2 linked regions of the Homo sapiens genome follow. The protein of the gene in region 1 purifies or fractionates together with the protein of each later gene. This does not show direct contact. Each region holds a gene or a part of one and is shown in the gene's direction. Other genes may lie near its edges.

Region 1 (4,494 bases):
TGGGTTAAGTATTTAATAAGATATATAGAAATAGCCATATATAGTCTGTAAGTAAAGGTATCAAAAAGTGAATTTAGTTAATTTAAATTCGGAATTTTCTATGTCTGTGAAGAGAATTTGAAAGCTATATTTGATGACCCTGTAATTATCTTTCTATGTATATATCCAAAGGAAATGAATCAAATGATATATGAAAGAATGGTCATACTAGAATTATTCATAACTCTTCAAAAAAGAAACCCCCCAAATATGTATCAACTAAAGATGAATGAATCATTACAACACATTCATACAATGGAATAATATAGAGAAGTGAAAAGAAATGAATCACATAAAGATGCAAGTATGTGAGTAAATTTCAGAAACGTAAAGGTGAGTCCAAGAAGCCATGAACAGGAACATACAGGACTACACCTACATATGGCTTAAAGGTTTAAAGTAGGTAAAACCGTATCATAGAGTTTAGGGTTGCATACCTAGTTGTTAATGTATAAAGAAAATCAAGGCCAGGCGCGGTGGCTCACGCCTGTAATCCCAGCACTTTGGGAGGCCGAGGCGGGTGGATCACCTGAGGTCAGGAGTTCAAGACCAACCTGGCCAACATGGCAAAACCCTGTCTGTACTAAAAATACAAAAAGTTAGCTGGGTGTGGTGGCATGCGCCTGTAGTCCCAGCTACTTGGAAGGCTGAGGGAGGAGAATTGCTTGAACCCGGGAGGTGGAGGTTGCAGTGAGCTGAGATCGCGCCACTGCACTCCTGCCTGGGTGATAGAGCGAGACTCTGTCTCAAAAAAAAAGAAAATCAAGGAAATGATCATTCTAAATTATGGCTATTGCTCTCCTCAGGGTATGTGAAGAAAGGTGTAGGGGCTTGGAGAGTGGCATGGAGGTGGACCTAGGCTATTTGCAATGTGACATGTTTTGCCCTGCTTGATGGTTGCATGAGTGTTTATGACACATTGCTATGTTTACCATCTTAGTTTTCACCCATTTCTAAGTGTGCATTATAATTGTATTTAAAAATTATTAACTGGAAAAATGCTCCATAAAGAATATTAATTATTCTGCTCATTGTATACCTTGCAAAAAATTCACCATTTATACACATTTTTATACAACTCTTAGAGAGTTGAAGTAGGAACTTTATTTTAGCTGCAACATATGGAAATTTCAGATGATGCTACCTGCAGCACACAAATCCTTTCAAACATTTTTTTATTACCTTTAATTATCTACCTCACATGACAAAACTTTGCCACTCCCCATCTATTTTTCTTTTGGCTCCTGAATTCCTGACAAAACAGGGGCAAATATATTTCCCCACACTCTTGGTGTAGCATAGTAGCTGTACCAGTTAGGTTTTTCTACTAGAGAAACCCTCCAAAACTACGTTAGATATTTTTATCTCATATATCTTTGGATTCAGGTTTTCTAAGCTGGGTTTGGTGGATAGCTCTGGTGACTTGAGATGGGCCAAGTTCTGCATCTTGGAGCTAGTTAGACTTTGGCCAATTTAGGATGGATCAAGTGCAGGCAAACTGACTCCATTAGTTTTCATTCTCATTCTGAAAACAGTGTACTAGCCAGGTGATAATCTCATGATCAATGGAAAAGAGCAAGAAACCCCAATATGGAAGCCATCTCAAACCTCGGTGTGAAATCTACCAATTTTCTGTTCATCAAAGAAAGTTGTGTGAGTGAGCTCCGAGTCCAGGGGACAGATAATCAACCTGCTTATGGTGGGAGGATACTGCAAAATTATGTGTCATAGGGTGTGGTACTCAGGAATATTTACAAAATTGTTGAACATTTTAATTAAATAATAAATACTTAAACATTAAATAGACTTGAGAGTAAGTTTACCAAATGCTTAAGCATGAAAGATATGTTTGATGTTTGATACATTTTTTTGGGGGGGGTCTGAAAACCCTCAGTTTTCACTGGGAAAATAGGACTAATTTCACGTGGATGGCCTCCAGGAGACTTACTTCCCATTTTGGAAAGTATAAGAAAATAATTCCTTCCATCTCTTAGGGGTGTCACAGTCTCTCTCTCTCTCTCTCTCTCTCTTTCTGTGTTTGTATCTATTTATGAACATGGTAACAATAAATTCACACAAAAGTATTGGGTTAGCAGCAACCAGATTTTAAGGTGTTTTGGTCTTCTTATGGTTCCCAAGAAAACCTTGGATGATTTTGATTTAAAAGTTTGGATTCTGTCTGTTTAAATGTAGCATAAATAGTAAATCCGTTATGGTGGTGATCCTAGTTATGACTAAGGTCTTTTAAAGAACTTAGACATTTACTGTATGAACGATGGACTCGGGGGTAAAATTTCCCTATCTAACAGCTGAAGTTGCTGAACACAAATTACGTATCGGTTAAACAAGGAAAACATTGCAAAATATTGAAAGAGAATATGTCTTTATTTGCATGCTGGTAAATGAAAATTTAGGTTTCACTTCAACTTCATTATGAATAATTCAAGCCCATCACAAGAACGGACATTGAATGAATGAGTTAATTTGAGCTGTTTTGAAAATAAGAATGTTTTCCGTAAAGATGACATCAAACTCATCCATTAGCATAAGCTGGTACTTTCTTGTTTGACACTGGTCACAGTGTTTAAAAGTAAAAAGAATGTTACTGCACATTCAGAAATCAGATGCACATAAAATTTAAGGTCAGAGTATTAAAGAAATCACAACCAGTGATATTAGGCTTGCATTTTCTTTCTTTTTTTCTGCTCAGATATGATAACTTTTCTATACATTTTTTTTTCAATTCTAATAATGGTTTTATTTGTTCTCGGAAACTTTGCCAATGGCTTCATAGCACTGGTAAATTTCATTGACTGGGTGAAGAGAAAAAAGATCTCCTCAGCTGACCAAATTCTCACTGCTCTGGCGGTCTCCAGAATTGGTTTGCTCTGGGCATTATTATTAAATTGGTATTTAACTGTGTTGAATCCAGCTTTTTATAGTGTAGAATTAAGAATTACTTCTTATAATGCCTGGGTTGTAACCAACCATTTCAGCATGTGGCTTGCTGCTAACCTCAGCATATTTTATTTGCTCAAGATTGCCAATTTCTCCAACCTTCTTTTTCTTCATTTAAAGAGGAGAGTTAGGAGTGTCATTCTGGTGATACTGTTGGGGACTTTGATATTTTTGGTTTGTCATCTTCTTGTGGCAAACATGGATGAGAGTATGTGGGCAGAAGAATATGAAGGAAACATGACTGGGAAGATGAAATTGAGGAATACAGTACATCTTTCATATTTGACTGTAACTACCCTATGGAGCTTCATACCCTTTACTCTGTCCCTGATATCTTTTCTGATGCTAATCTGTTCTCTGTGTAAACATCTCAAGAAGATGCAGCTCCATGGAGAAGGATCGCAAGATCTCAGCACCAAGGTCCACATAAAAGCTTTGCAAACTCTGATCTCCTTCCTCTTGTTATGTGCCATTTTCTTTCTATTCCTAATCGTTTCGGTTTGGAGTCCTAGGAGGCTGCGGAATGACCCGGTTGTCATGGTTAGCAAGGCTGTTGGAAACATATATCTTGCATTCGACTCATTCATCCTAATTTGGAGAACCAAGAAGCTAAAACACACCTTTCTTTTGATTTTGTGTCAGATTAGGTGCTGAGTAAAAGACCTGAAACTCTCAACTCTCTAGATTCACAAGTGGGACATTGTGTGTGTATTCTAGGAGAAAACAAACTGATAGTGTCTGGAACATTTTATACTTTTTACTGTTTTTTCTGTAGTGTATGTTTTTGAGTATTTTCTGAAAGCATACCTAGAAAAGTCTTTTACCTAAAGTTAGTCTAAAAGTGTATCTATGTGTGTGCATCTGTATATGAAAGACTTAAAAGACATTGACAATAACATAATGTTAATCATATTTTCACAAGATGCCAAATTATAGAAAATATGGTAAGAAGTTTTTCAGAATCATGAACCCATGTATATTTCACATATACATTTCATATTATCATGTTTCACTTGAAAACTGTGTGATCTTTACTTATAATTGTTAAGAAGTGACACATTATCTCAAAATCTTTGCTCTTTTCCACTGATTTTTACCACACATATGTACCACAGTGTGCTTAAACATCTAAATTTTTTGATAGTAAGCACACTCAATTCTAAATCAATAATGAGGTTTCATCTTTGGGGTAGTTTTTATTTCATCATGAATTCTAATTTTATGTTTAGTTTATAGCCAGCATAATTATTTTCAGAAAAAGATGCACAGAATAATATTCAAGGATGACAAATATATTTAGAACACATTTTGTATATGTCTACCATAAACAGTACTGAGGAATAATAGACTTAATACAAATATGTGAACATTTGAGAAAAAAGTCATTTCTATAATAAGGATGAAGAAAGAAACACCGTGATGACTTATGTTGTCATAAGTCTCAACATGCAGTTAGAAAAGTCATTTCTTCCAGTTTTTGAGTTAAAGAAAACCTTT
Region 2 (4,343 bases), on another chromosome or scaffold:
CCTTTTGATTATTCCTTGTAAGATGTGAGAAGCAGGTGAGACTCCATGTGCAAATCGGGGGGCGGGGTGGGGGCAAGAAATATAGTCTTATTAATTTTCTGTAACTGAACTTAATTTCTGTGCTGAAGGCTGGGCGCGGTGGCTCACGCTTGTAATCCCAGCACTTTGAGAGTCTGAGACGGGTGAATCATGAGATCAGGATTTCAAGACCAGCCTGGCCAAGATGCTGAAACCCCATCTCTACTAAAAATACAAAAATTAGCCGGGCGTGGCAGTGTGTGCCTGTAATTCCAGCTACTCGGGAGGCTGAGGCAGGAGAATCACTTGAACCCGGGAGGCAGAGGTTGCAGTGAGCTGAGATTGTGCCATTGCACTCCAGCCTGGGCAACAGAGCAAGACTCCATCTTAAAAAAAAAATGTTGGGCCCACATTATTTTCAGGGGTGAAAACTTAACCAGTGTGGGGATTGCCTTCCCCAGGAGCCCCTTTGGCTCTGCAGCAGCCTTTGCTGTGCAGAATTTGCAGGGATGTGGGAACTCAGGGAGGTGCCCCGGGCCCTGCTCTTTGGGCACTTGCCTCTGCCACTTCCTCTCTTGAGTCTCGACACCTTCCTGTGCATTATCTGGGGAAGGAGGGCAGAGGCCTCCTCTGTTCTCAGATTTCTCAGATCCCTTCTGAACAGGGGTTCAGCCCAGTGGGGAGGGCATAGGACACCTGTCTCAGGAAGTCATCAGCAACCTGGGTCTGACTTCCCCCTTTGCCTCCCCTTCCCCACTCTAGGGAGAGCAGCCCACACAGGGCTCTTACTCATCATCTGGTCTCTCTCAAACGGGTTCTTTCTCTCACTCTATCACATTCTCTGCTTTCTGTTTTTGAGACAATGAGCCTAGGACAATAAAAAACGGGATAAAAGGACATATTATTGGAGGAAAACGTTGCTTACTATTTCTAAAATCTTCTGCCCCAAAGATTTCCTGACCTACCCTCCATGCTCCTCCTCTGAGCAAAGCAGTAATTTTCTCCCAACAGCTGTAGACTAATTCCTGCTCCCCCTGCCCCCTCCCTCAGAGGACGCACACTAAGAAAACAGCATTCCTTTCCAGGTAAAGTTGAGCCCCGTGTCACTAAGTTTAAGTCCCTTTTCTCACAATCTGGGCACTCAGCCTTCATCCTGCCCAGGGGCCTGGGTTCTGGCTTTTCCATTCCTCCTGCCCCTGCATTTGGAACACATGAGTGACTCGCCCATTGACACGGCTCTATCCCTGAAGCTGAGAATTCCTTCCTCTAGAGTAACTTGGAGTTCTTTCTGAAAGGGTGGGATCTGCTGTCATCTGGGCCTCTGAGCCTTCTCTGTCCTCCCCTGTCTCACACACAGCACTCACTTTACCAGCTCTGTTAATTCCTAACCCAATTACAAAGGGCCATTCCTTCCGGGCACACGTCTTAAAATGGCCAGACCCTCTGACTGTCTGGAACTAATAATGGAAAATGTAGGTTAGATGGTTATTAATAGGTTTTTGCACACCGAAAGCCTCCTGGGGAGTAGGGAGCGGGCAGAGGGCAAGGCCTTCAACCATACAGCAAAGTAGGCAAGGAATTGTGCTTGGGGAGGGTGGAAAGCCTAGGCTTGTGATGGATGCAGGTTTTGCAGAGGCAGAGTGAGCCTGAAGGGGCCTCCAGCTTCCTGCCACTTCCTCTCGGTCTCACCCCAGGGCATCCTCCTGAACTGGACCAAGGGTTTCAAGGCATCAGACTGCGAGGGCCAAGATGTCGTGAGTCTGTTGCGGGAAGCCATCACTCGCAGACAGGTAGGAGCCTGTTCTAGGGGTGCTTTGGGGCTGTGGCAGGCCTTGAGGGGAGCAAAGAGTCTCCTACTTTCTGAGGGGGGAGCCCTCTGCGGTAGAGACCTCTGGGTCCAGTGCTGGTTGCTGTGACGACCGCGTTGCCCAGCAACTAGCAGCATCCTTTTGTGTGCAGGCAGTGGAGCTGAATGTGGTTGCCATTGTCAATGACACGGTGGGGACCATGATGTCCTGTGGCTATGAGGACCCCCGTTGCGAGATAGGCCTCATTGTCGGTGAGGAGGGCCCTGCCCTTTCATGCCCCTACTGCTTGGCAATTTGCTGCCTTCTGTTGATTCCTCTGGTTGGATGTTTCCTTGGCGGTGGGGATGTGGGATTGCTCTGGTCTGACCCAGTAGGGCTCTGGAACAATCTCTTGGGCTGGCAGTTTGGAGCTTGGGTGTATAGTCCAGCTCAGTGACTGACTCATGGTCATTTAAGCTCTCTGAACTTCACTTTGCCCATCTGATAAATGAATCTGAGCTTTGGAGTTGTACAGATTTGGGTGGAAATACTAGCTTTGTGTTTCCACCTGTATGACCTTGGGCAAGTCACCAGAGCCTCAGTTTCCTCATCTCTAAGATGGAGATAAGAGTAACAATGCCTGTCTCAAGGCATCATGAGGATGAAATGGGAGGGGACAAAATACAGCATGGTCCCTGGCTCATGGTACACACCTGGTGTTTGGAGCTGGGCGGGGGCAGGGGACCAATGAGCAATGAGGGTCCTTCAGACAGTCCAAGATTCCATCCTTATTAAGCACCTACCCTGTGTCCACAGGGGACTGGACAGAGGAATAGGAAGACACATAAAACAAGAGGCAATTTCTGCCTTCTCAGAACCGACCACTCAGCAAGGGTTAAGCCCAGAACAACACGTAGCGGTCAGAGAGTGACTTGATTCTACACGTGGGCAGCAGCGAGGCCAAGATCAGGAAGGAGTGGGTCCCAGGATGAGTGGAACTTGAAAGCCCTGAAAGAAAGGATTTGGCTCTGTTGGGGAGGAGGGATCCCACAGCTCCTGGGGCATTGGTCTCTCAACACGAGGCATGTGGCAGCCTCTCTTGAGGGGGAGGTTTTTGAACCCAGCACCTGGCACGGTTAGGCACTTGGGAGAGGCATGCCCAGGTTGCTGTGTGCATAAACAGCTGGACAGAGGAGCTCCAGGTGGGGCCAGCAAGGAGCCCACCTTCCTGGAGCTGAAGCTGTGTCAGAGAAAGGAAGGAGACGCCCTCATCCAGGGTGCGTCCTCTGCCTGGAATGCCTTTTTCTTTCTGTGCTTCTTGGATTCAGTCACTTCCTCTCTGTTGCTTTCCTGATCCTGTTGGCAGAGACTCGCCCCGTGGTCTGGGCTCCCACGATGCTCTCCTTGGTGCTTCCACGGGGGCACAGAGGCTCTGTCAGAGCTGGCTATTCATTGCCTGACCTCTGGCCAGACTGTGGGGCTCCTCGTCTCTGATTTCTCTGTGTCCCCTGCTCTTGGCCCAGCACCTCTTAGTTGGATTAAGGGCCTGGCAGGCCGGTCCAGGGAGCTTCGGCCTCTCAACCGCAGAGAGCTAGGGGCGAGGGCGGGGGATGTCACATGTCTCCCAGGGGAATGACAGGACAGCTGGGCATTGTAGGAGCACTTGGGGGTGGCATGGTGGATGCACTGATGGTGATGTTGGTGGGAAAGGCAGTGAAGGTCCCCAGGGCTTGGAGCTGGCAGGGTCTGCACGAGGGATGTCGGGAAGGAAGAAGGACCAGGACCAGGGACAGGCTGTGAGCATGAGAGGTAGAGAGAGTGAGCCCGAATCGTTGCCATCTCGGTATGGGAAGTGCTCAGAGGGTCCTTGTCTACATCAGTAAGTAGCTTCCACGTTGTCTGGCCTCTCTGCAGGAACCGGCACCAATGCCTGCTACATGGAGGAGCTCCGGAATGTGGCGGGCGTGCCTGGGGACTCAGGCCGCATGTGCATCAACATGGAGTGGGGCGCCTTTGGGGACGATGGCTCTCTGGCCATGCTCAGCACCCGCTTTGATGCAAGTGTGGACCAGGCGTCCATCAACCCCGGCAAGCAGAGGTGTGGGCTGGGCCCAGGCAGTGGTGGCTGGCTGTGACCGGTGCTGGGGATGGTGGCTGGTGGGGCCTTCTGCCGAGTGCACACATGTTCATGCAGGTTTGAAAAGATGATCAGCGGCATGTACCTGGGGGAGATCGTCCGCCACATCCTTTTACATTTAACCAGCCTTGGCGTTCTCTTCCGGGGCCAGCAGATCCAGCGCCTTCAGACCAGGGACATCTTCAAGACCAAGTTCCTCTCTGAGATCGAAAGGTGCCTGAGGCCTACATTGCCTCCCCCACTTCAGGGGGTCTTTCTGTCCACTGTGGGGGATTGCTGGCCATGGGTGGTGACGAGGTCTGCTCTGGAGGATGAAGTGGGAGAAGTCACGACCCACCTCCCTGTGCTCTCTTCCTTCCTGGCCCCCAGTGACAGCCTGGCCCTGCGGCAGGTCCGAGCCA

The links. The genes of interacting proteins can lie anywhere in the genome.
Region 2: the proteins of TAS2R50 (region 1) and HK3 purify together in Homo sapiens (affinity purification with mass spectrometry; one large-scale study listed by BioGRID and IntAct). This does not show direct contact.

Annotation. Positions count from the first base shown.
Region 1 is NC_000012.12:10,985,118-10,989,611, reverse strand, and holds TAS2R50 (taste receptor type 2 member 50), read left to right. Parts: upstream 1-2,699; 5' UTR 2,700-2,751; coding exon 2,752-3,651; 3' UTR 3,652-3,699; downstream 3,700-4,494. UniProt on the Homo sapiens protein: Receptor that may play a role in the perception of bitterness and is gustducin-linked. May play a role in sensing the chemical composition of the gastrointestinal content.
Region 2 is NC_000005.10:176,881,504-176,885,846, reverse strand, and holds part of HK3 (hexokinase-3), read left to right. Parts: coding exon of another isoform or gene 1-21; exon of another isoform or gene 22-36; intron 37-1,029; exon of another isoform or gene 1,030-1,103; intron 1,104-1,712; coding exon 1,713-1,808; intron 1,809-1,977; coding exon 1,978-2,077; intron 2,078-3,719; coding exon 3,720-3,903; intron 3,904-3,999; coding exon 4,000-4,155; intron 4,156-4,311; coding exon 4,312-4,343. UniProt on the Homo sapiens protein: Catalyzes the phosphorylation of hexose, such as D-glucose and D-fructose, to hexose 6-phosphate (D-glucose 6-phosphate and D-fructose 6-phosphate, respectively).